Linked DNA regions of Homo sapiens: regions 1, 2, 3 and 4 are each linked to region 5. The links come from fine-mapping of genetic effects on gene expression. A gene starts in region 5. Each other region holds a variant in brackets. All regions are shown on one strand. Distances are between the middles of the regions.

What was found.
Region 1: its variant is fine-mapped to the expression of CD302 in whole blood (INTERVAL, PIP above 0.99).
Region 2: its variant is fine-mapped to the expression of CD302 in whole blood (INTERVAL, PIP above 0.99).
Region 3: its variant is fine-mapped to the expression of CD302 in whole blood (INTERVAL, PIP above 0.99).
Region 4: its variant is fine-mapped to the expression of CD302 in whole blood (INTERVAL, PIP above 0.99).

What each region holds. Positions count from the first base shown.
Region 1 is chr2:159,767,566-159,772,700 of GRCh38, forward strand. It overlaps MARCHF7 (membrane associated ring-CH-type finger 7), which reads left to right. Exons shown (of 12, transcript NM_001282805.2): 12 at 1-3,462. LY75-CD302 (LY75-CD302 readthrough) reads right to left here. Exons shown (of 38, transcript NM_001198760.1): 38 at 1,063-4,488. The coding sequence ends at 4,286. CD302 (CD302 molecule) reads right to left here. Exons shown (of 6, transcript NM_014880.5): 6 at 1,063-4,488. The coding sequence ends at 4,286. Among named protein-coding and RNA genes, the nearest start is that of CD302, 28 kb to the right of the region's middle. The variant C/CAT (reference allele first, on the strand shown) is at 2,078.
Region 2 is chr2:159,736,171-159,741,170 of GRCh38, forward strand. The region is part of intron 4 of MARCHF7 (membrane associated ring-CH-type finger 7); the gene reads left to right. Among named protein-coding and RNA genes, the nearest start is that of MARCHF7, 26 kb to the left of the region's middle. RefSeq lists an enhancer at 1,419-2,411. The variant G/A (reference allele first, on the strand shown) is at 2,446.
Region 3 is chr2:159,868,517-159,873,651 of GRCh38, forward strand. LY75-CD302 (LY75-CD302 readthrough) reads right to left here. Exons shown (of 38, transcript NM_001198760.1): 13 at 3,935-4,077. LY75 (lymphocyte antigen 75) reads right to left here. Exons shown (of 35, transcript NM_002349.4): 13 at 3,935-4,077. Among named protein-coding and RNA genes, the nearest start is that of LY75, 34 kb to the right of the region's middle. The variant C/CT (reference allele first, on the strand shown) is at 2,158.
Region 4 is chr2:159,602,674-159,607,808 of GRCh38, forward strand. The region is part of intron 1 of BAZ2B (bromodomain adjacent to zinc finger domain 2B); the gene reads right to left. Among named protein-coding and RNA genes, the nearest start is that of BAZ2B-AS1, 10 kb to the right of the region's middle. The variant T/TTGTGTG (reference allele first, on the strand shown) is at 2,259.
Region 5 is chr2:159,795,056-159,800,190 of GRCh38, forward strand. CD302 (CD302 molecule) reads right to left here and starts at 3,153. Exons shown (of 6, transcript NM_014880.5): 1 at 3,077-3,153. The coding sequence starts at 3,143. All of the region lies in intron 33 of LY75-CD302 (LY75-CD302 readthrough), which reads right to left. LOC124906083 (a long non-coding RNA gene) reads left to right here and starts at 135. Exons shown (of 2, transcript XR_007087273.1): 1 at 135-2,897; 2 at 3,764-5,135.

The sequences.
Region 1 (5,135 bases), 27 kb before region 5:
CTGGTAATCAAAAAGGTTTTTTCTTTTAGGTGAGTGGGAAAGTATTACCCTTGTTTTAAATATCTAAGCAATGCCTATCAACCCTTTTTTGTGTTATGATTACTGTAGTCATATTTATGAAAAAAGGTTTGTGTTTTACTCTTGCTAGTGAGAAAAGTGGGACAAAATATACTTTTGAAATAAAATGCTATATGGCACCTAATTATTTTTTCTTTTAAAATGCCTTAAGTTGCAGTCTCATTTTGATAATCATTTGCTTCCAGTGTTTAAAAATTAAAAAAAGAATGGGGAGAAGGTTATGAGAAGAGCATTATTAAGTTTCCAAATTTAATTTGAATTCCAAATTCACCTAGCAATAAAATCTAATTTTTAAAAAGTATATAAATATAAAATGTATAAATGATGGATAGATTTTTGTATTGATTTGCAAAATGCAGATTATATTTGATAGGCTATAGTATGTAGATATTCCTTTTAGGAATATTACAGCTGTAAATTATATGAGACTTGCCAGTCAAATGCTATTTGGTTTAAAAAAATTATTGCAATCTCAAGTTAATGGAATATTTTTAAATCCCACATTCAGAGTTTAAAACACTGGTTTTCAATGTGTTTTTTAGTGTTGTCACTTGTTTATAGATAAATATATAAATAACCTGTTTGGATCCTGGTCCTTTTTAACTGTTCCTTGGTAATTCTGAGCATTTATTTGATGACTTAATATTTTTCACTACCTTTGGAGAACAGATGAACATTATTCACCATGAATGGATCTATACTGTGTGGTCATGAGTTGTGTATACTTCCATAACACTGTATTTTTCTTCTGTCAGTACCCTTAGGATACACTTTAAAACACCTTAAGGTCTGATGTTATGGCAACAAACTACTTTTTCAAACCTAAATAGGAACCATGTAATTTCTCAAAAGTGATTGAACAGTTTGCCCACACTTAGTTTGTTGGTCTTATGTAAAACATTGGCTCAAAATAAAGTACACACTGATTTATTTTACTGTTTGAAATGTTTCCTTTTAAACTGGTGCTCAAAGAAGACATCAGACTTCATAACCAAGAATTTTATTACAATTTCAAATCTCATTTTAAGCAATAATATAAATGTTCTAAAACATTTGCTCACCTCTTGCCAGTTACCTTTGCATTGTCTGTCTTAAAGCAAAAATATAAAATTTAAGGGTGGTAGTTTTAATATATTCTGTGGGTCCTAAGGGATGCTTTGAATTTGAAGTATATATACTTTTAATAAAATTCAGTATGACAGTTGTCTTCTGCTTAACCCATAAAACTTTATTTAAAAAATTTAACTAGATGGTACAAAACATTCATTGGTATGCACATAATTCTGTATAGTTTTGTTATTAAATGCTAAATGACAGTGATAACAATGGCTTAAGCTTTACAGTATTCTTGTAGTTCCCTAGTACCACTTAGTATTTAAATATTGTCATATTAGCTTCAGATTATCATGTAAATGACGGTAGAGGAATAAGAGAAAAGGCTTTCATTGGTTATCAGTTTTAAATTCTGAACAAAAGAGACCATACACTGCTCACTACAAGAATGCAATTTTCTAAGAAAATGTAGTTTAAAATGTTATTCTGAATATCTGCCAAAGAATTATATTGTTATTACTAGCTAGAACCAAGATGTTGAAGAAAGCAGTTTCTACATTCTGGATGTAGTAAACAAGCCTGCCTGTGTAATCCAATTATCTCTTCACTAATGAGTAGATAAGGTGCCTGTTATAGATGTTCTGGTATATAAAGAAAAAATGTAGGCCAAGTGTGGTGGCTCACGCATGTAATCCCAGCACTTTGGGAGACCAAGGTGGGTGGATCACTTGAGGTCAGGAGTTTGAGACCAGCCCAGTCAATATGGCGAAACCCCGTCTCTACCAAAAATACAAAAAGTTAGCTGGGTGTGGTGACAGATGTCTGTGGTCCCAGCTACTAAGGAGGCTGAGGCAGGAGAATTGCTTGAAAACCTGCAAGGCGGAGATTGGAGAGAGCCAAGATCGAGCCACTGCACTGTAGCCTGGGCAGCACAGTGAGACTCCAT[C/CAT]ATATATATATATATAGCACTTCATTACCAGAGGCCTCTTGGCCTGTTGAAAAATGAAACCAAATATTGAAAATTAAATCAGAGTTTAAAGCAGCTATTTTGGAAGAGCTGCCATTAGGTAGAAAGTATCAAAATGTACAAAAGAAAGTTGTATGGGAGTTGAGTGGAAGGTAGGATTTAAGAGCAGCACTGCCCAATAAAACTTCCTATAATGAAAATGTTCTATAATGTATGTTGCCCAGTACAGTAGCCACTAACCACCTGTGATTTGAACACTTGACAATGTGGCTAATGTAATTCGAAAACTGGATTTTAAACTAAATTTACTTAAATAGCCTCATGTGGCTAGTGGCTCATTGGACATTGTAGTTGTAGACGTTTGAGACTGTTGGTTTTAAGTTGGACTTAATCACTTTCCTACCCAAATTCTACCACTCCTTTAAGAACTCCTTTAGAACTCTTTTAGTTCACATAATACGCCATATTTTTTTTACTGTGCCTGTAGTTCTTCAAGGAGTGGTACAATTTGGGTAGGAAAACCAGGCAGGAATTCCAGGGTAGTGTTCAATATTGACATTAGTAATAGTCTATCAATAATAAAATAGACATCTCAATCACTATACAAAATCTCAGAAATGTAAAGCTCTTACAGAGCATGCTTGTGCTTGTGTAACAGCTGGTGTAATGCCTGCATTTTCAGTACCATGTAGCCGCACTGTTAATAGTTTTCTATCACTTTTTAGTTACTCATGTCTCATTAATGATAGTGCCATTAATTGTGATGAGTGTTTTCGATTCATGTGGTCAATAAAAAGAGACTACACAAGCTGGAACTTTGTTGCCATTAGTCAAGCTAGTGAGATAGTATATCTATCTATCTCCCCAGAAGAAAGTAAGATAATTGATGGGGTGTGGATTCAGAAGAGGGATTACTTTTCTTTGAGCCTCAGACTTCTAGACAGTATACTTCAGTCAGTAATGGACCACATATAGAACAGTGTTTCCTTAGTAGACCATATTTTTACTGTACCTTTTCTATATTTAGATACACAAATATTGTGTTACAATTGTCTGCAGTATTCAGCACAGTAACATGCTGTGTAGGTTTGGGACAAAATAGGCTCTACCATCTGGGTTTGTGTAAATACAAGCTGATTTTCACACAAGATTCCCTAACTATGCATTTCTTAGAACGTATCCCCATTGATAAGTGATACGTGACTAATTTACGTGAAATTTATACATTCTTTATCTTTCCTGTTTTTGGTTTATTGATGGTGAGGAAAATTACTCGTTTCAGCTTTTTCATTTTTTTACTCCCCAAATGATTTTCACCTTTTTCTTAAAATGTACAATAAATGCACTGAAAACTTTGATCACTGTCACTACAGTTGTACTTAAGTGTTTTTCTTCGGTTTTTGCTTGCACAGTTTTCATGTCATTGAAGGAAAAATTTATAAATGCTTGAGGAGAATGAGATACATCTTGTATAGGGGAAAGTACAAAAGGTATGGTGGCAAGAGAGAAATCCTTAAAGGGGCACTATAATATGTAAGTGTTAACCTAATTGCCAGCTTTCTCTATGCCATCCTGGACACAGCGATCATATTTTGTTTCAAATAATTTATAAACATTCATTAAAACTTGAGTCATTTGTGATAAAATGGTGTGTGTAAAAGTAATGAAACTAAAATTGGTGTGGGGTGTTAAAAGTTGTAAAATTTTCTTCATCTAAATCATAAAAAGATACACATTCTAGAGGAATTATCTGCCAAAAAAATAACAATTATCAAAGATATTTAAATGTATGGGATGTACTTAAAATCACTTATTCCCCATTTCATGTTTACTAATAAACATATAAACTAAAGTGGGTCAACTAAATAGGGAAGATACAGCAGGCAAGACAAATAGGCTGGGCTTTTATTTTTATCTGCTTGGGCTTTAAGCTTTCCTTCATTCAAGTGACAGATTCTGCCTTTGACGGGATGCTTAAAATCACTATATTAGATCTAAGATCATTTCTAAAACCTGTTTTTTTAATGAACCTAAAGACTTTTCACAGCAGATGAGTACATAAAAATGTTACTGGAATAAGGAATACCATTAAAGCTCTAATATCCAATGTCAAGTTTTATATTAAAATCTTTCCCAAGTTATCTCTGCCAGGGCATTTTGTTGATGTCTTAGTGCAAGATTACCAAAAACTTAGTCAAATTGAACAGGATATTCATTTTCTTCTCCAACTACCAAAACACAGTCTTCATTATAAGGTGATTGGGGTGCGGTTGAAAAAACTGTGGTGAAACGAGAATCAGAATGTTTTTTGTACAGGAACCAAATGATTGCTCCCAAAACTGTCAAAATTACCGTGCTAGCAATCACCAATGCTGATATTAAAATGTGGTTATCTGAAAAGGAAAAGACAAAAGAGTATTTGGGAAATTAGGGTACACAAGTTGCAAGTATATTTTGATGAGCACAACTGTAGTTTTGTGTAAACATTTCTCTGTGTTGAGAATTTCCCACACTGATGAGAAAACCAAAAATTTCGCATTTGTTACTAACAAGATTTATATTTCTTAGCCTGAAGAATAGTACTCAAATTTTCTAGGAAGTTGTGCACTTCTCCACTCTACTGAAGACCCCATAGTGGAAATCACGCAAGTATATACCATGCTCCAGTTTGTCTTCCTTCGCTTTACTTTCTGATCTAAGACTACAAATTCAGACCTACTGTTCCCTTTAGGAATTCTAGTATTTAGATAATGTGTTACATTATTGAGGTTTAATGGTTCACCTGGCTTTGGGGATTTAAGATTTGTTTAACTGAAAAAAACACCAAGACCTGCAGTAAAGTACCTGGTTTTGTGTGTCTTTGCATTCATTCATTCTTTGTGTGTTTCCCTAAATTTCTGTAAGTATGCACAACTTTGCAGTTCTTGCCTATTCAAACCCTTGTAATCTTTCTATAAGAATCCAGTTTAATAAATTGAGGAAAATAACCTGGTTTAGGAGAACAAACATACTTTTGGGCAGGTACTTGTATTATGTATAG
Region 2 (5,000 bases), 59 kb before region 5:
GTTCAATCGTTTGGGGAACTGCCATACTGTTTTCAAACTGGCTAGATCATTTTACATTCCCTTTTGTGTGTATGAAGATTCCAGTCTCTCCACATTCTCATCAGCACTTATCTTACTTTCTGATTCTAGCCATCCCAATGGGTATGAAGTGGTATGTATCTCATTGTGGTTTTGATTTGGATTTCCTTGATGACTAATGATGTTATACATCTTTTCATGTGCTAATTGGCCGTTTACTGTACATTTTTCAGAAATGCCTATTTATAATAGTTCCTTTGCTCATTTTAAAGTACACTTGTCTTGTTACTCAGTTGTAAGTGTTCTTTATATATTCTAGATACAAGCTCCTTATTGGATACATGATTTGCAAATATTTTCTCCTTAAGTTTTTTTATTTTTTTAATTGCATTGTTTTAAGGGCATTTGTGTTGGGAAAATATTTTAAAACCTTAGAAATAATTTTCTGAAAGCAAATATTGACTTATACAATAGTAATAGTAAATGATTTCATTGACTATACTTCCAGTAAACCTCTTGTTGGAAAGGTGGTATGAATAACTATTATGAAGGTAAAAAGAAATAAAATGAAAATTGGATGCCTGCTAGTTATATAAAGTCTTGGAAAGTTATTTTCTATTCATTGTGCATAGAGTATCTATAGCTATTAAGTCTCCAAGCTGTCTTATTGATGATTTCTCAGATACACTATATAGTATTTCAGCTACTTTGGTTGGGCTAGATAGCCCTCCACCTCTTCCCTCATTTTATTGAGTTATAATTCATATACCATACAATTCACCATATCACAGATAGCCTTTTGAATTGGAAATAACTGATGAAAACTATTTACTCTGGGAGCCAAATCTGTTACCTGTCTGGGTAGAGACTGGAAAGTTAATGAAAAAGAAAGAAACCTCTTTAAACTCCAGTGTAAATTTAGTTGCTTCCATCTAGTTTCATACGAGTGCTCATAGTCGGGAGGCAGGAAATGCAAAAAAAGATTGATTAGTTTTCATAAAAATTAAAATTTGTGTGCATCGATACCAAGAGAGTGAAAAGACAATCCACAGAATGAGAGAAAATATTTGCAAAGTATATATCTTACTGGATACTGAGACTTGTATCCAGAATATATGAAGAACTCTTACCTCTCAACAATAAAAATATAACCCAATTTCAAATGGGCAAAGGACTTTAATAAACATTTTTCCAAAGATATATTAATGGCTGATAAGCACATGAAAAAATATTAGTCATTAGGGAAATGCAAGTCAGAACTACAGTGAGATACTTAACACCCACTAGCATAGCCAAAATAAAAAAGATGGATAGGCTGGGCACAGTGACTCATGCCTGTAATCCCAGGCCTGAGTTGGGAGGCCAAATCTGGGAGGATTGCTTGAACCCAGGAATTTGAGACCTGTGCAACATAGTGAGACCCAGTCTCTACCAAGAAATAATTTAAAAATTAGCTGTGCATGGTGTCGCATGCCTGTAGTCTCAGCTACTCTGGAGGCTGAGGTGGAAGGATTGCTTGGGCCCAGGAAGTCAAGGCCACAGTCACCTGTGATTGCATCACTGCATTCTAGCCTGGGCAACAGAGCTGAGACCCTGTCTCAAAATTAAAAAAAAAGATGGACAATCACAGTGTTGGTAAGTGGTGGAGAAATTGGAACCTTCATACATAGTTGATGGGACTGTAAAATGGTACAGCTGTCAGCACTTGGAGTGTTGCTTTTCCAGCTAGAAGCCTCTGTGGCTGGTGGTGCCTTTGCCCAGGTTTTGCTCGGGCCTGCTGGGTGTGTTCTGCCTACTCGGACTGGCAGGCTTTGTTCGACTCGTGCTATCAGCTCGGATCCCACGCCTGCCAAGGGTGAGCCAGACATGGATCGGCAGGGGGTGCATGGGCAAGTGAGCGCAGGGTCCGGCCACCGTTTACAGCCAGGCACACTGGGTGCAGTGGGGCAGGCAGCTCTAGGCACTGGTGCCCTATGAGGCTGTGGATGGATCAGGTGTACCACAGGCAGCAGCTTCTGTGGGCACTGAGGAACGCAGTGGCACCCAAAAGCTTGGAGACACAAGGAACTACAGAGCCCCAAAGAGGTTGTCACAGCCCTGGTTCAGGGAGCTCCTAGGTCTGGACTCCCCAAAGGGTCAGAGCTCTTCCGTCCTTGTCGCCGGCAGCATGGTGAGTGGGGGGTAGGAAGGGATGTTTCAGCACTGTTTGTGTTACAGCTCTTCGAGTCCCACCATTTGGCGGGTCCCGAGTTCTTGTCCCACGTCCAGAGAGAATGAGGTACACAGACAGTTGGAGGGTTAGCAAGGCGAAGAGGGGCTTTATTGAGCAGTAGCACAGCTCTCAGGAGACCCAAAGTGGGTGGCTCCTTTCCACAGGCAGGTCATCCCAACGAGTGTGTAGCTTTCAGTGGAGAGGAGACCAGACAG[G/A]AGTGGGTAGCTCCTGTCCATAGGGAAGTCAGCCTGACATCTGGCTGAGTCAGATTTTCATGGGCTTCAGAGAAGAGGAAGTGCATGCTGATTGGTCCATGGGAGGCAATGGGTGGGCCTGGGATAAGCACCATAAGTTCTCACTCCGGTCCGTGGAACTGGCAGCCCAGCCTCCAGGCTTCAGGCCATCCCAGGCTTAAAGGTAGGGTTTCACTAGGGACCTGCCCCTTTTCACCCAGGAGCATGTCTGCCTCCTGCTACTGTTCATGGCACCCAGGCTGTTTGTGCCAAGGGATGCCTGCAGACCCATGCCAAGCCACCCTCAGTTCCCCCTTGGCTTCCCTTTGTGCTTGTTGGTGCCCAAAGTCCAGACGGGGGCCAAGGTAGCAGTGGGCTGGTGTGTCGGCACTGCCCCAAGCATGCGCATACACACCTGGATCGTGACAGTGCCCAAGCTTGGCCAAAACTTTGCTCCAAAATCGGAGCAGGAGGCGGGGGCGGGAAGGGAGGCTTCTCAGGCCCCTGAGAGCACAGGGATACCCAAGTCTACAGCCACAGCTGGGTCAGGGAGCACAGGGCTCCCACCCCACCAACTTGGAAGTGGTCAGGGCTCCCACCTGTTGCTGACTCTGTGGAGCGCACAGACCCTGCCACGCCTCCCCTGCTGCAGCCGGCGTCTTTGTGGCAGCCGCTCCAGATGAACTGCTGCTGCCATCACAGCTGTTAGCATCAACCTATAGTTGGAAAAATAGTAATTCCCCCAAATATCAAACATCAAGTTACTACATGATCTATCAGTTACACCCAAGAGTATTGAAAACATACATCCATACAAAAATTTACAGTTGTTCATAACGGCATTGTTTATAAGTGAAAACAACCCCAAAACTACTTGTTTAAGGATTCGTCATGCCCAATGTGGTATACTTTGAAGACAGACTTATTCCCTGATTTCATTTGGCCTATAGTTCTGGACAGCAGAAGAGATAATACATTGTTAAATGAATCTGACACTTTATTTAATTGTTCAAAGAATTCCGAGGGAAAAAAACAATTGCTTCAGACTGAGGATATTTGAACAAATATGGACAAAATTGGATTGTAGGAACCAGGAAAAGGTTTGATTTTGAACTCAAGCCAATAGCAAAACTAACCAAAACATTCCTTCTATATACTGACATTATGTATACTGATATGTATATCTATATGCTGATATTAACAAACATTTTTTGTCTTGGATATAGCCATATAATCTACATGTTGTGTCGTGAGTCATGAAAATTGTTTAATGAACAGTGAGTGTCACTTTAAGTCTTTGGACACTTCAGCATTCAAGAATCAAATGAAATTCATTATCTAAATCTGCTCCCCTATAATCAGTATTTTTAATGAATGGCATAGTCATTTATTTCACCAGTAGACAGTACCAAAAAACTTTTTTCTCTATTTCTCACATTGTCCCTAAATCTGATGAATTTTTATCTTTTATAATTGCCCTCTATTCCCATTACTTCATAGGGACTTATTTCTTGATATTCTAATGGCTTCCTAATTGGTTTTCTTTCTGTTCATCTATTTCGTCTTCCACATGCCTCTAAAAGTCTTTCTATATAGTAGTAGATCTGATTTATCCCCCCCTTCATTAGTTCCCAAAATCATGTTTGCAGAAGTGCTGTTCAGTAAGTTTATGCAGTCTGTGCAAAATGAGAAAAATAATGACAAGTTATGGAGTTTGTACAAATGTATTCAATTTAAAGTGCTCATTCTGAATTATATCCTTTATTCCTTTTTTAAAAATTGGGGACAGGATTAGGTATTAGTTGCTATTTTAGATGTCCTACTGGTCAAAAGTGACAGTTCTTTCTCAATTTTAAATTAAAACATTTTTTTATTTTGGTCTCTGAAATCCAGAGGTTTTAGAACCACTGGCCTGCAGGATAAGGTCCCTGATACCTTGATGATGATGGCATATGAAATGGTTTGATTCTAAAATATCAAATTAATTTCATTTCTTGTGCTAGCTCCAGTTCATTGATTGGGTGTCTGTAATATTAGGTACAGAAGGCTTGTGAGACTAAGTTTGTGCTAAGCTGAAAAATGCCATTATCAATTTACAAAATATTCTCTAGGCAAAGGATGGGCGAATTCCTGATGTAGCCCATTCCTACCTTTTCAGCCTCACACCTTCTACTTTATTTTCAAAGTTTCTTTTCCAGTGTTACCATGAACTAATACATCCCCTGAATGCAGGCAATATGTTTCTCATAATTGAACCATATTGGCTGGGTGCAGTGCCTCATGCCTGTAATCCCAGCTGTTTGGGAGGCTGAGGCAGGAGGATCACTTGAACCCAGGAGTTCAAAACAAGCTTGGGCAACATAGTGGGACCCCATCTCTATAAAAAATAAATTTAAAAATTAATAATTGAAGTATAATAGAAAATAAAGTATAAATAGTAATGTCTTAGAAGAAAGCCAGGCCAGATGTGGTGGCTCACACCTGTAATCCTAGCACTTTGAGATGCTAAGGCAGAGGATTGTTTGAGCCCAGGAATT
Region 3 (5,135 bases), 73 kb after region 5:
ATAATGAACTTGTATTAATTTTTTAAAGAAGGGAGTGCTCAACAAGTGTGATTCAAAACAAAGAAACAAATCATAAAAATTTCCTTTCATGTTTTGTTTCCTAGTGTAATTCGTTCTGTATATGGATGCTCTTAATGGTCATTTCTATCACATATGATATTCCAATGTTTTCTACTTATTGTTTCTCACAAATATCTACAACCTCATTCATTAGTACTTATCCATGGCTCCTCGTTCCAGTTAGAGTTACTAACCTCTTGCTTGGAATCTAGAGCTTATGTCAGCATTTTACTTAAAAATACTTTATCTGGATAATATGATATTGTGTGTGTCAAGCTTGAAATCTAAGGGCCATTAAGTTGCCCTGCTTGAAACTTACATGTCAGGAAGTATTGGTGGTGTATTTGAAAGGCCATGCCCCACACATATACACCATGGAATACTATGCAGCCATAAAAAAGGATGAGTTCATGTCCTTTGTAGGGACACGGATGAAGCTGGAAACCATCATTCTGAGCAAACTATCGCAAGGACAGAAAACCAAACACCGCATGTTCTCACTCACAGGTGGGAATTGAACAATGAGAACACTTGGACACAGGGCGGGGAACATCACACACCGGGACCTGTTGTGGGGCAGAGTGATGGGGGAGGGATAGCATTAGGAGAAATACCTAATGTAAATGACGAGCTAATGGGTGCAGCAAACCAACATGGCACATGTATACATACGTAACAAACCAGCATGTTGTGCACATGTACCCTAGAACTTAAAGTATAATAATAAAAAAAAAAAAGAAAAAGAAAGGCCATGGTCCAGAGGTGGCCACCATGAGGACTTCCATGATCACCAAAGTCACACTGGAGGCTTTGGTCATGAGCAGAATGAATGTGAGAACTGGGTTAATGTCAGTGAAATCGGAAGCTTGTTCATCAGCATGATGGTAGGATTGGGCTCTCACTGGTGAAATATAAGTTATTTGAGATGCAGGGATTAGCTAAAATATTTAGAGAAACTCTCACACTTCTCAAGAGTGTATTAGAATCTTGCGAGGCCGCAGCCTGTATCTTAGTAGGGCTTGATTCGAAACAACCCCACATCCAGTCATTGGGTCAGGTGATTGTGATGGCCTGATACTCACTACAATGGGAACAGAATGCTGCCACAGAACACTGCCACATCTGCTTCAAGTAAATCTGTGCAAGGTGATAGTTAAAACACCAAAAAGGACAGATTGCTGGAATGTTGTCAAGCTTACAAAACACGTTGTATAAAATGTTTTGTGTCTGCTTCAATGAATGTTTGCATAGCAAATGTCTGTATGTGTGGAAAATTTTGGTCTGAATTTTGCATTTGTTATAATCTATTCTCAAGGTTGAGGGAATAGCTAACACTCACCTCACAAAGAACCCAAGAGTTAGTATTTAGTATATACAAATTGCCTTGGGTCAGTCTGCAGTGAAATTTTGTATATTAATTTCTAACACTGGACAATGATGTCTAGAATACCTGAGATTCTACGATAGATGCTTAATAAATAAATATTTATGGAACACAGGTATCATATTTTGCATTAGATTCCCAGTACACTGTAGTGAAACTACATTCTCTAATGAGAAAAACACAGCAGAAGCTATATTAGAGCAAATCTGGGCCAGGCACTGTGGCTCACATCTGTGATCCCAGCACCTTGGGAGGCCAAGGAAGGTGAATCGCTTGAGCCAGGAATCTGAGATTAGCCTGGGCAACATGGAAAAACCCGTTTCTACAAAAAAATACAAACATTAGCTGGGTGTGGTGGCATGTGATTGTAGTCCCAGCTACTTGGGAGGCTGAAGTGGGGGGATTACCTGAGTCTGGGAGGTTGAGGCTGCAGTGAGCTGTAATCATGCCACTGTACCTCAGCCTGAGTGACAAAACAAGACTGTCTCAAAAAACAAAACAAAAAGCAAATCTGGAAAATATAGAAATTTTCAAAGAAAACATTCTATTCATTTATTTTTTACAGACAGCATCTCACTCTGTTGCCCAAGCTGGAGTGCAGTGGCACTATCTTGTCTCACTGTATCCTTGAACTCCTGGGCTCAAGTGATCCTCCTGACTCAGCCTCCTGAGTAACCAGGACTACAGGTGTGTGCCACCATGCCCAGCTAATT[C/CT]TTTTTTTTTTTTTTTTAAATAGAGATAGGGTCTCCCTATGCTACCCAGGCTGGTCTCGAACTCCTGGTTTCAAGCAATCCTCTCACCTCAGGCCCCCAAAGTGCTGGGATTACAGGCATAAGCCACCACACCCAGCCCATAGAAAAGACTTTAAAAATCACTCAAAATCTTACTTCCTAGAGATATAATAGCCATTACCCTTTTTGCAGTCTAGTTTTAAATGTAAATAGTATATTTTTTACTCTTTGATAATCTGTCTTTTCCTCTGCTTAATATATATAAACATTTACACATTATAGTATTGTTTTTATCTTAATGTGCAGGAGTTGAATTTCAAACCAAGATTAACAATAGTGATGATATAGGGATACTTACCTTTTTCTGACTTTCAGGGAAATGCACTTAACAATGCTTCATCATTAAGTGTGATATGGCTATTAATTTGAGCTATTCTTCTATTCAAATAAGAATTTACATATTAGTTATATTTACTAAATATAAGTGTATATTTATGTATTAAACCAGGAATGAATAGTGGATTTTACCCAATGCATTTTCAGTACCTATTAAGATGATCACATGACTTGTGATTATTAACTCAATTGCTATTTGAGTAAATATAAGACAAGCACATAACATAAGCAAGTGAAGTGGGGTCAAGAAGTAATAAATTAGAGACCTGGCAAATTGGAGAGTCAGGCCCCATTTCAGGAGGCCACCAGCTACTCAGCACTAACTTTTATCTGTTGCACAATGAAAATGTTGCTAGTTGCTTTAATTTTTAAAATTAAAAAATTTAAAAAATTTTTAAATTTTTAAGGATTTTTATTAGAATTTCACAATTTTGTAGTATTTTGTGGCCCCTTCCTCCCAGGAAAAGAACATTATAGTCTTAGAGCTGGATAAGTACTAATTGGCAAGCTTTGTTTTAAGTCTCTTTCAAAAGTGCAGAATTGGACTTTATTATTATTGAACAAATTTGCAGACTCACACTTAATCAAAACTGATAATGGGCTGGGTGTGGTGGCTAATGCCTGTAATCCCAGTACTTTGGGAGGCTGAGGTGGGCAGATCACCTGAGGTCAGAAGTTCGAGACCAGCCTGGCCAACCCCTTCCTCTCTGTGTATATATGTATATATGCAGGTATATGTGAGTGTGTGTAGATATAAATACACACACACGCACCTTGTTTTTGTTTTTTGTTTGGTTGTGTTTAATTACTTAAGATCAAACTCCTTCCCTTGCAAACAAGGACATTCCAATTTCATATCCAAATTCCATTTTCTAGCTAATTTGTATGACTCATTTCTCCTTGACCATATCTGTATATTCTGGTCTTAGTTCCTTTGCTTATGTTCTGTTTTTTTTCTGGCTCCTTCTCCTTCTCCTATCTTGCCTTTTGAAATAATACCTACCTTCCAAGAATCAGCCTTCTTTATGACATTTTTCCTGATTATACTCCCAGAAACACTCCCTCCCTCCTCTGAATTCCCAAGGCCCTTCCTTGCCTATATTCTAGATTTTCTGCCATACATTGCTGTTGGACTTTATTAAACAAAGGGTAGGGAATACATCTCATTCATTTTTAGATTCCTCATAGTGTCTGCACATTAAGAGTGCTTAATGTTCCATGACTGCTAAGCACCAAATGACCTTTTAGATAATAAAACATGTCCATTTTTTTTCCAACAGAGAGTGAGGGTAAGAACATGTCAATTTTGAATATCTAGAGGACATCAAATTCAGCATAGAAATTCTCATTCTTAAAGTATTACCTGAACTGGTCCGTTAAAAAGTGAAGAAATTCCTTTATTTCATCCACATGGCTGAAGCTAGAAAGGTGTGCTCCAAGGGCTTGGCAGAATCGTTCAGCTTCTTCCCAGTTCCTCTTTCTTACAATTCTTTCTGCATGGAATACCTTAGCAAAATATAATATTAATTTGTTTTATGGTATTATCATAAAGTATTTCATAGTGCTAAAGTCAATTACTGTCACATGTGTGGGCCCCTGAAATGAATTCTTAAAGGTGTAGTGAAGGCATAGGTAAATGCACATATACTGAGACACAGACAGGTCCTGCTGAAAGTGTCAATTCAACTAAAGGCCAGCACAGATGCCAGTCCTTGTGGTCAGATGGATGGCCTTCCTCAGCCAGGCTGGGGAACTATTCCAACAAGATCCACGTTCTCCTGTATTCCTAGGACCTTGAAAGATAAAATGAACCAGGAGGCAAGGCTGTAAAGGATACATATAAATGCTTTGGGAGTAGCCTTTGGCAAAGAAATGTGCTAACAATAGAAATTTCGAATATAAGACACAGTGACCCACACAAAAATAGCACTATTTTCTGACGAGGAACAACCAAAGAGCAGTCTGCACTGGTGTGTGAATATTGACAGAAAGTGGCAAAAGTAAACCTGGAACTTGGGCTGTTTCAAAAGAAGAAGAAAGGAGAAAAAGAAAGAAGAAGAAAGAAGAAAGAAGAAAGAAGAAAAAGAGGAGGAGGAGGAGGCAGAGGAGGAAGAAGAGATGATGACACAATGACAGGATGAATTATATTTGTCCCAATTCTTCAGTTCCTTGTAATATAATTAGATGGTCTTGCCACAGCCCCCTGGTGGGCGGAGTATACGTCTTTGTACCTTGGCATGGGGCTTGGCCATATGACTTACTGTGTTGATGGGATATTAGTGAAGGTAAACTGAGCAGAGGCCTGAAATGTGCTTATATGGTTGGCTTGCCTTCTTGGGCTCCAGTGATATACCATGAGAACAACAAACCCCTGTGAGCTGTTGCCCTTTTAGCCTGAGCTCTAGAAGGAAGGGCTGGAGCCCAGCACAGCTGACCTGAAGTTGGGAGCAGAGGTCACCATTCAAGCCCAAACTAGATCAGTCAAACTCTAGCTGGCCTGAAGATCTGTGAGAATGTGAGGCTAAATGTTTGTTGTCATAGCCACCGAATTTTGGGATGGCATC
Region 4 (5,135 bases), 190 kb before region 5:
CAAGGCTCTCTTTGCCACATATACAAACCAGTTAATATTTTCCAGAATACCATAAAATATTCATATTCTTTGACCCAGCAATTCAAGCTCTAAAAATGAATCCTACAGAAATAACTTAGAATAAAAAAAGCTGAGGGATGTTTGATGATATTTCATCCCATCATATAATAACATAAAGTGAGGCTAGGCATTGTGGCTCACACCTATAATCCCAACACTTTGGAAGGCTGAGGAGGGTGGACTGCTTCAGGCCGGGAGTTCAAGACCAGCCAGGTCAATATAGTGAAACCCAATGTCTAATAAAAATACAAAAATTAGCCGGGCATGGTGGCATGTGCCACTAGTCCCAGCTACTTGGGAGGCTGAGGCAGGGGAATTGCTCGAAACCAGCAGGCGGAGGTTGCAATGAGCCGAGATCGCACCACTGCACTCCAGCCTAGGCAACAGAGCGAGACTCCGTCTCAAAAAAACAAAAACAAAAACAAAAAACTTAAATGCCCTAAGATTGGATAAATTATGCAGTCTTTTAAAATACTTAATGACAAGAGAAAATGCTCATGATATAATCCAAATAATTAAGAGCTAATAAACAACGGAGAATGCAAAAACTACATAACAGCTACTTCGTAAAAATACATACATTTTAAAAATGGAAATTAAAACTTGTTTTATTTAAAATGCCGTAAGGAGGCATTTCTGTTAGAAGAAATGCTAATATTTGGAACTAGGACTCTCTGAAATTTCTTTCCTCAAGCTCCAATTTCACCACTATGCATTCCCACATTTTTTCTTTCCCTCTAGTTACAATGAAAGAGTATCCCTCGTTCTAGTTCGTGATTATCAGTCTAACATGGATCTGGAACCCATTTCTTCCCATTTCTTACAGAATCTCTGAATTATATCCTCTGCCCCTGTATCTTCATTCACCCTGTTAAAAAAAAATCATCTTCCTATATTTCCTTCCCAGAAACTACCAAATTTCTTTTCCTCCTCCTTACAAAAAAAAAAACAAAACCCCAAAACTATTTAAACATGTTTCCATTTCTATAGCTTTAATCCAAACCACTCCACTGAAACTATTAATGCCAAGGTCACTAATGTCCTTGTCACTTAATCCAGTGGATTATTTTAGTTCTTTCTTAGGTAATACCACAGACACATTTCACTCTATGGCCACTCCTGTCATTTTCATCTTTTGCAGGAATAGGTTCATGACACTAACCTGCTGTTTCATTAATGAACACCTTCATTTCAGTAAATATTTCATTTCAACATAAAACAAACTAATAATGCATATAGTAGCCTGTGAATAATAGAATTTTGAACATTTGAAATTTTTATCAATGCTTTTCTGTATTTTTAAAAACTTTTATTAATATTTTATAGTGAAGAAATACATTTTTAATTTTAAAGAAAAGTCAAAGGACAATGAATATGATTAACTGTAAGAAGGAATAAGTAACTGGCAAGTTGTACAGCTGCATATACCCTTTTAACATAAACAGGCAAATGACACAAATATGATATGGGAATTTATTTTTTTTAATTCCAAGTTATATTCTCAAATAGTTTTTTTCCCTTTCTTATACATGTATTTTATATTTTATTTTATTTTTAGAGGTAGGAGTCTTACTATGTTGCTCTGGCTGGTCTCACACTCCTGGCCTCCAGCGATGTTCCCACCTCAGCCTCTCGAGTAGCTGGGATTACAGGTGTGAATCATCATGCCCAGCTATTTTTAATTGACACATAATAATTGTACATATTTGTAGAGTACAATATTTTGATACTCAAATAGTTTTAATTTAGGCATCTAAAATGTAATAGAATTACTTACCAGTATGATAAGCCTGCCTTATCAAAGAAGCATAGTTTGAATACTCTCAATATATTTAATAAAATTAGTATTTTTTCAAAAGATTCCTGTCACAAGAGGTTGAAACAAAATTACAACCAAAACATGACAATGCTTTAAAAAATTGACCTTTAGTTATCTAGCTCAACATTCCTTATAATAGAAATTTTAGAGAATACAATATCACATGAAAATATGGTATAGATAAATGTTGATGGGAAGTTGGGCCTTAACATAGGCATAAAAGGACAGTTTTACTAGCAGAAAGGAATGCAGAATCATTAAATGTCAAAAAATTAAAAATATGAGAAATAACTATAAAAAGTTTGGTGAGGAGGGCATTTTTCAGCTTAAAAGTAGGAAAATTATTGTTAAATCTAAAGAACTGAAAAGTTAATATATT[T/TTGTGTG]TGTGTGTGTGTGTGTGTGTGCGCGTGTGTGCGCGCGCTAGGAGAGAGAGAGAGCCAGGATCACACTCTGTTACCCAGGCTGGAGTGTGTGCATGCACAGGAGAGAGAAAGAGAGAGAGACAGAGACAGGATCTCACTCTGTTACACAGGCTGGAGTGCAATAATAGCTCATTGCAGCCTTGAGCTCCTGGGTTCGAGCAATCCTTCCACTTCAGCCTCCCAAGTAGCCAGGCCTACGGGTGCATGCCACCACACCCAGCTGATTTTTTTTTTTAAATTTTGTGTAGAGACCAAGATCTTGCTATGTTGACCAGGCTGATCTTGAACTCCTAGCCTCAAGTGATCCTCCCATTTTGGGCCTCCCAAAGTGCTGGGATTACAGGTGTGAGGCACTGCACCTGGCTTGATAAGTGATTTTTATTTATTTCCATGGGTAGCTGTAGGATTATTTTTAGCTCACTTTTAAAGTGCTGAGATTATAAATATAGAAATAAACATGTATTTTTACCCATGTACATGTAATTAATTTAGTTGGTACCTGCAGTATATTAAATGCTACTTGGAACAAATAAAATATTTGCAAAAATAATCTATTTCACAAAAGGTGGCTCATATTAAAATGCAAAAGGTCAAATTCAAGGTACTACGTCACAGAACACTTCATTATAAAAAAAAAACAGCTGGGCCCAGTGGTGCATGCCTGTAGTCCCAGCTACTCAGGAGGCTAAGATGGGAGGATCTCTTGTGCCCAGTTCAGTCCAGTCTGGGCAACAGAGCAAGACCCTGTCTCTAAAAAATTAATAATAATAAAAATTTAAAAACAGTAAACTTCTGGTCACATTCAATTTAGCTTTTCTTCCCAGGCATGCCTTATTCCTACCTTCCCATTTCACACACAGTACAAAAACATTTTCACGTTCTTTAAAACAATTCTTCTCTTTTGTGAGTTTTGGCAAGTGTACCTACAAACAGGCTTCCTGCAGCGGGAAGGGCAAAGAGAGCTTTTATCTAACTGTCTAAAGTTATTACATGTTCTCTTCCTGGACCAAGTGTTTACTATTCACACTGCCCTTCCCTAACCCTTCAACTTTTACTTCAAATCCCCAAGGCATGATTACAGATAAGAGTTATTTACCCAACAAGCTGCAGAAAATATTAATGACAAGGCACAGAAATTTAATGCTAAAATACTTACACTACTATGGACAAAATCTTGATATGTTCCAAAAGGACTTGATTACATAACAATGCTCCACTCTGACTGCATTTAGAAACCTTATTTAAAATTGTCTCCTTTTTTGTTGTTTCTGCCCAAACCCTAAGAACACTTAACTTTGGCTCCAAAGTAACCCCTCTTTTAAAATAAAGAGATTTGACCCACAACTCTGTCAGTTAATGTTGCCTTGCAGAGCCTGTTTTTCTCAGCATGCTGCACTAACAACCCAGAAACGAAGAAAAGGTCATTTTGTGACTTATACACGGCTCCTGATTTTTTCAAATGTTGAAGATAGGTTTTGGTGCTTCCTATGTCATCACAATGGTTTATGTTAACAGTAATACATTACCCAAAGATCAGAAGCATGTTTCAACAACCATGTCATCATAGAAACCAGAAAAGATAGTAAGCATGGCTTTGAACTAAACTTAGACACTAGATAACTTTTTATTTCCACTGTTTTCCATCTTTAATTTACCTCAAAACTTATCCTTGTACAAGATAAAAAATGGTTACATAAAAGTTTTAAGGTTTTCTTATGACAAATCTCTTGCAAGTAAATGTTCATCACAATACTGCAAATAAAACATTTAATATGCAATAATAATAAATTTCATTATTATTATGATGTAGTAATAATGAAGTTAGGAAAAGACTAACTACTAAAATTTATTGTCCTTGGCCAAGACATTATGTAAAAGATCTTTCATACATTTGTGTTTTGAAAATTTTTTAAATCTTTCCTTTTTCATACTCTTTTTTAGTGGGATTTCTATTTTTTTTTTTTTTTGAGACGGAGTCTCACTCTGTCACCCAAGCTGGAGTGCAGTGGTACTATCTCAGCTCACTGCAACCTCCGCCTCAAAAAAAATAATTTTTATATTTTTAGTAGAGACAGGGTTTCACCATGTTGACCAGGCTGGTCTCAAACTCCTGGCCTCAAGTGATCTGCCTGTCTCGGCCTCCCAAAGTGCTGGGATTACAGGCATGAGCCACCACGCCTGGCCCTCCTTTTTGTCCTTATGGATATGCCCGTTACTGGCAGTCCAGCAGTCTGCTTGTCTTCTGCATTCATCCGAAGGAACTAAAAGAAGTAAAAGTGTTTTTTGAGCCAGAGCCATCATCATGGAGAAAAGGGATACACATATATCACCCTCTGCTCTCTACTCAATGTTCTTAGCAGGGGGGATCATGCATTAGATTTCCAGAAAAACTGTTCACAAAAGCATAGGAAAAGAACCAAGGAAAAGGGAGGGGTTCTGGTTAATCTCAAAACAGAAGATTTGAATACCTCTAACCAGAAAGGGTAGTTTTGTCAGTTTTAACCCGGCCTTCACAAATAAGCCTATCACTGAAATGGAGGATTGAAACTGATTAACCCATCTTCTCCAGAAAAAGCCAAGCAGTCAATTTTGAAAGGAAGGATCCCATGACATTTTCTTTTCCTTCTAGTGGAAGAGGTATGGGTTGGGGTGACCTTGAAAAGGCAGAACCATCCCAGATGTCAAATGGATTGGCTCTAATATAGAGCTCTAGCTCTATATTTGTTCTATAATAGGCTTATGCAGTCCTTCTTTTCTTGGATCTTTTCTTCCTGATCTGTGAATATTCAAAATTTAATTGTTCTTGATCTAGTTCAATGCTACCTAAACCGAAGGGCC
Region 5 (5,135 bases):
CTACTAAAAATACAAAAGTTAGCCAGGCATGGTGGCGCATGCCTGTAATCCCAGCTACTCGGGAGGCTGAGGCAGGAGAATTGCTTGAACCCAGAAGGTAGAGGTTGCTGTGAGCCGAGATTGCGCCACCGCACTCCAGCCTGGGTGACAGAGTGAGACTCCATCTCGGAAAAAAAAAAAAAGAAAGAAAGAAAAGGTGGCAGCAATAGATTAAGATGATTTAAGGCTTTGAATTCATTATGAAATGAGTGCATAGCAGAGGTAATATAATTTGAAAAAAATTGCAATCCACTTATCCTACCTACTTTTTAAATAACTCACCTAAATTTTTTCATCCTTTTATTATAACTTAGAATAAAGTGCAGAGACACAAATCAAAACAAAACAAAAATCCACAAGATGGTAAAATCTCTGTTATGGAGCTTCTTTCCCCTGGTAAGAGAAGCAACAAGCAAGACAGATGAATAAACACAATGCATTCAGAAAGGCTTGGAAAAGATAAAACATGGACATGTGACAGAGAATGTGGGTGTTCAGGGAGGCTTCGGAGAAGGTGACATATGAACAGAGATCTGAATGGTGGAGGTGGGGGCAGCCATGCCAAGGACTGGGGGAAGGTGGTGTGCACAGAAGGACCAGAGGTGTTGGAGTACCCAGATACTGTTTACTCTGTGGATACACAGAGTGAATGGCAGGAAGGGTGGTAAGAGATGACATCAGGGAAGAAGGCAGAGGCACCTCATCTAAGGCTTGTAGGACATGGCAATTCAAAATCCCTAGATTCTGATCCACATGATGATCACAGAATGAGGACTTACTCGGAACATGCTTGTTCACTCAGCTCATGCCAGGCATAGGAAACCACTGACCAAATAAATACATACTGATCATCTATTATGTGCTTAAGCACCCTTACGGAAAAACTTTTTAAAGCGATGCCATGGATTTTCACTCAGGAATTTAAAGAATGTTTTGTCCACTGTGATTTTCAAAATAATAGCTAAGAACAAGGTTAAGATCACTTCACTAATAACCTCCAGAATGACAGACAATAACAATGATTTCCGTTTCAACATCACATTTATATGCAATACCCATATTTATTATGCAACATCATAAGAGCTTTTCTATTAAGATCTTGGTATTCAGCAACAAACTCTTTCTTGACTTAGTTCTAAGCCAAATATGACCCCTGATCTTGCTTGGATGGGAGATTTGTAAAGTATTATGAAAAACACACTTAGTTTTTCAGCCCTATAACATTAGCATACATATGAATGTGTTCAGTAACCATAAACATCCAATATACATAAGGTGGTATTCATACGTTTTCTGGTTGCAACAATTACCCTTCATTTTGTATGAAGAGAATAAAGGGAAGGAAACCAAGATGAACCACGCCTGTAATAGGGACTAGACGTGGAGTTCCCACTTAATGCTCCCAATAGCCCCATGAGTAAGTATTATCTCTGTTTTACTGAAGTGCAGATAAGTTGGTTAACTAGCTAGGTCAAAGCTCACACTCATTTCCAAATTAATCCTTAAAGCTTCCTGACTGGGAGGAGCTGATTAATTAACATTAATTTATTCATCATGCACTTTTCTAAAGCTCTTGAAAAGCCTATTGATCCACACTGGACTTATCAAAGGAAATGCACAAAAATTTCCAAAGGGAAATTTGCCCTCTATTGCTGGTCAAAACAGCTTCACTGAAGAAGAGACATACCAAAATCTAGAAACTGATTTTCTTTAAAAGTCTGACAAGAAAGAAAAATCTGACAAGAAAATTCGACTAGCCTAAAGTACAAATGCACAGCCTCGCAGAGGGTGGTTTACATGAGAGTTGAGATGTTACTGGCTCGCAAAATGAGGGTGTGCAGAAGGAGGGTTCAGAGACAGCCCAGCTTTGTCTTAGACAAAATTAATGTTCCCAGTCTGAACAATGTGAACATGGGCACATCTTGTTTCTGCCCCTTTGATAGGCAGCAGATGTCACAACCAGTCATAAATGCAGGTCCACAGAAGTTTTCAAGAAAGGAACCTTGGGTTTGTATCCAAGTTCTGAGCTGCTGCTGCCTCCAACACTGAGGTCCACTGAAATATTCCTGTCAGTAGACTTCGAGCAGGCAGTTATTATAAAAACGCAGTGAAATCTGGGGCAAGGGGTGGGGGGGGGGAATCTCTTGCATTTTATTTAAATCTCTTGCACTTTATTTAAGCCCACACAAGTACTCATTTAGTTCTTGTTTATTTTGCTCTTTAATTCCTGGAATTATTCAGTCAGTGGTGTTTTTGGAAGTCTGTGTTCTCCAGAGTCTCCCCATCCACATATTTTTGACATGCTTGTATGGAAATTTTTTAAAAATAAAGACCACGGTCAATAGAATTGTGCATTTTCCTCACGAGTCGTTTTGTAAATGAATGATCACGTGTGTGATTTTTCAGATGTCACTTGCACAACAGCAGACTAGAACTTTAAAACTCCTTGATTTCAGTGAAATCCAAGCTTTGCCTATTCCCGTTCCTCTTCCATCCAGGGGTTATTTGGCTGAACTGTTTTCCTGTTTAAACAACTTGAACACCAACCAACTAGACAAACAGCGCTGCTTGCAAAAGAGGGCCTACTTCCTCCGGCCCCCACCCCCATCCCAGCAACCCCACTCCGGCCGCGCACCAGCAGGGGAAATCGCCACCAACGTCCCCGCTTCTCATTTCAGCCCGAAATTGCCCTGAAACGGCGCCCGTCGTGCGACTCCAAGTCCCTCAGTTCTCCGGCCAACTGGCCTAATTTGGGGGTTCCCTCCCCGCGGAGTGGGGTCTGCGGTGAGGATGTGGACTCCGAGGAAGACAGAGCCCTCCCTTATTCTCGGCCACCTCCCCTCCCCGAGGGCAGGCGGGTGAGAGGTGACCCGGAGCCAGGACCCACGGGGGACGGGCGTGCAGGGAAGGGCGGGATGGCCGGCCGGGTGTTGCGTCTGCGGGCCGCCCTCGGGTGCGCGGGGACGAAGAGCGTGCGTTGGGAAGGGGGCGAAGGCGGTCGCGCACGGTCCCGGCGAGGGACTACGTAAGGGCTTACCCGCGACGGCAGCAGCGGCGAGGCCCAGCAACGGCAGCAGGAGCGCGGGCAGCGCGGCCCGGAGCATGACGGCGGGTGCGGGTGGGCGGCAGCGGCTGCGCGGCCGGAGAGGAGCGGGGCGGGGCGGGAGCGGGGGCGGTGCTTCTCGCGTGCGAGTTTAATCCCCCCCCCGGGCGGAACGTGAACGGCACTGGGGGCTCCCACCAGGAGAACCCGGGTGTCCCGTCCCGCAGGAGCGGCTGGCGCGCGGCCTTCTGGAACTTCTAATTTTTGTTTTTTAAACTTTTCATTTGAATTGAAATAATTTAGGACTTTCGAAAATGTTGCAAAAACAGCACAAGAGATTTCCGTAACCCTTCAGCCAGCTTCTCTAAATATTGACATTGTATATAACGCCAGTGCAGTGATCAAACACAGGGCACTCGCACTGGGATAATGCGATTAGCTAATCTACAGCACTTACCACATTTCATTAATTGCCCCTCTAAGGGTCCTTTTCTGTTCCAAGATTCAATCCAGGATCATACATTGCATGTCGTGTCTCCTTAGTCTCCCTTTAATCTAGGACGGTTCTCTGTCATTCTTTTTCTTTCACGATCAAACCACATTTAAAAAGTACTGGCCAGTCGTTTTGTAGAATGTCCCTCAGTTTCATTTTGTCTGACATTTCCTTCTAATTGGATTCAGGTTGCGCTTTTTTGGGAAAGAGTTCCCCAGAAGTGATGTACGTGCTCGAGAAGGACAAGATGTCGATGTCTCATCACTGATGTTAACTTGGATCAGTTGGTTAAGGTGGCGTTTGCCAGCCTTCTTCTTTGGATCTACTGGCCAGAATCCTCCTTTTCAAAGACCCCTTTCAGTGGACTATGTCTCTTAGACAACTTTTCTCTGTTACCAGCTCCTGGATGAAGAGTCTTTAAGCTATGTTTGCTACAATGTATGCATAAACTGTGCAATTATACTTCACCCATGAGGGCCTCTGGACAACACTAGCCAGGGTCAAGCAAGGGTGCTTGTTTAAGCCTCATGTCATTGGCAAAAGAGTTCTATAAAATCAAGTCTAAACTCAACAACGTGAAAACAAATGACCCAGTTAAAAAAAATGGTCAGATGATCTGAATACACACGTCATCAAAGAAGTTATATAATGGCAAATAGATGAAAAGATGCTCAACATCATATGTCATTGCTGAATTGTATATGAAAACAAAAATGAAATACCACTACATACCTATTAGATACCAGAATCCAAAAACACTGACAAGACCACATGCTGGCAAAGATGTGGAGCAAAAAGAACTCTCATTCAATGCTGGTGCAAATGCAAAATGGTACAGCCACTTTGGAAGACAATTTGGAAGCTTCTTCCAAAACTAAACGTACTCTTACCATACCATCTAGCAATCACAACTCCTTGGTATTTATCCAAATGAGTTAAAAACTTACATACACACAAAAACCTGCACATGAATGTTGATAGCAGCTTTATTCATAATTGCCAGAACCTAGAGGCAAACAAGATGTCCTTCAATAAGTGAATGGATAAACAATGGCACATCCAAACAATGAAATGTTACTCAGTACCAAAATTAAATGAGCTATCAAGCCACAAAAAGACATGGAAGAACTTTAAATATGTATTGCTAAGAGAAAGAAGCCAATCTGAAAAGACTGCATACTATATGATTCCAACTATATGACATTTTAGACAAGGCAAAACTATGGAGACAGTAAAAAGATAAATGGTTGCCAGGGGTTGGGGTGGGAAGAAGGAGGGGATGAATAGATGGAACACAGAGGATTTTTAGAGCCATGAAATTATTCTGTAGGATACTGTAATGGTAGATGTGTATCACTATACATGTGTCAAAACCCATAGAATGCACAAAACGAAGATGAACCCTAGTGTGGACAATGGACTTTAGTTAATAATGTGTCAATATTGGCTCATCCACTGTAACAAATGTACCTGCTAATGCAAGATGTTAATAATTGGGGAAACTGGGGTATGTGTAAGGAGGTACATGGGAGCTCTGTACCTTCTGCTACATTTTTTGTA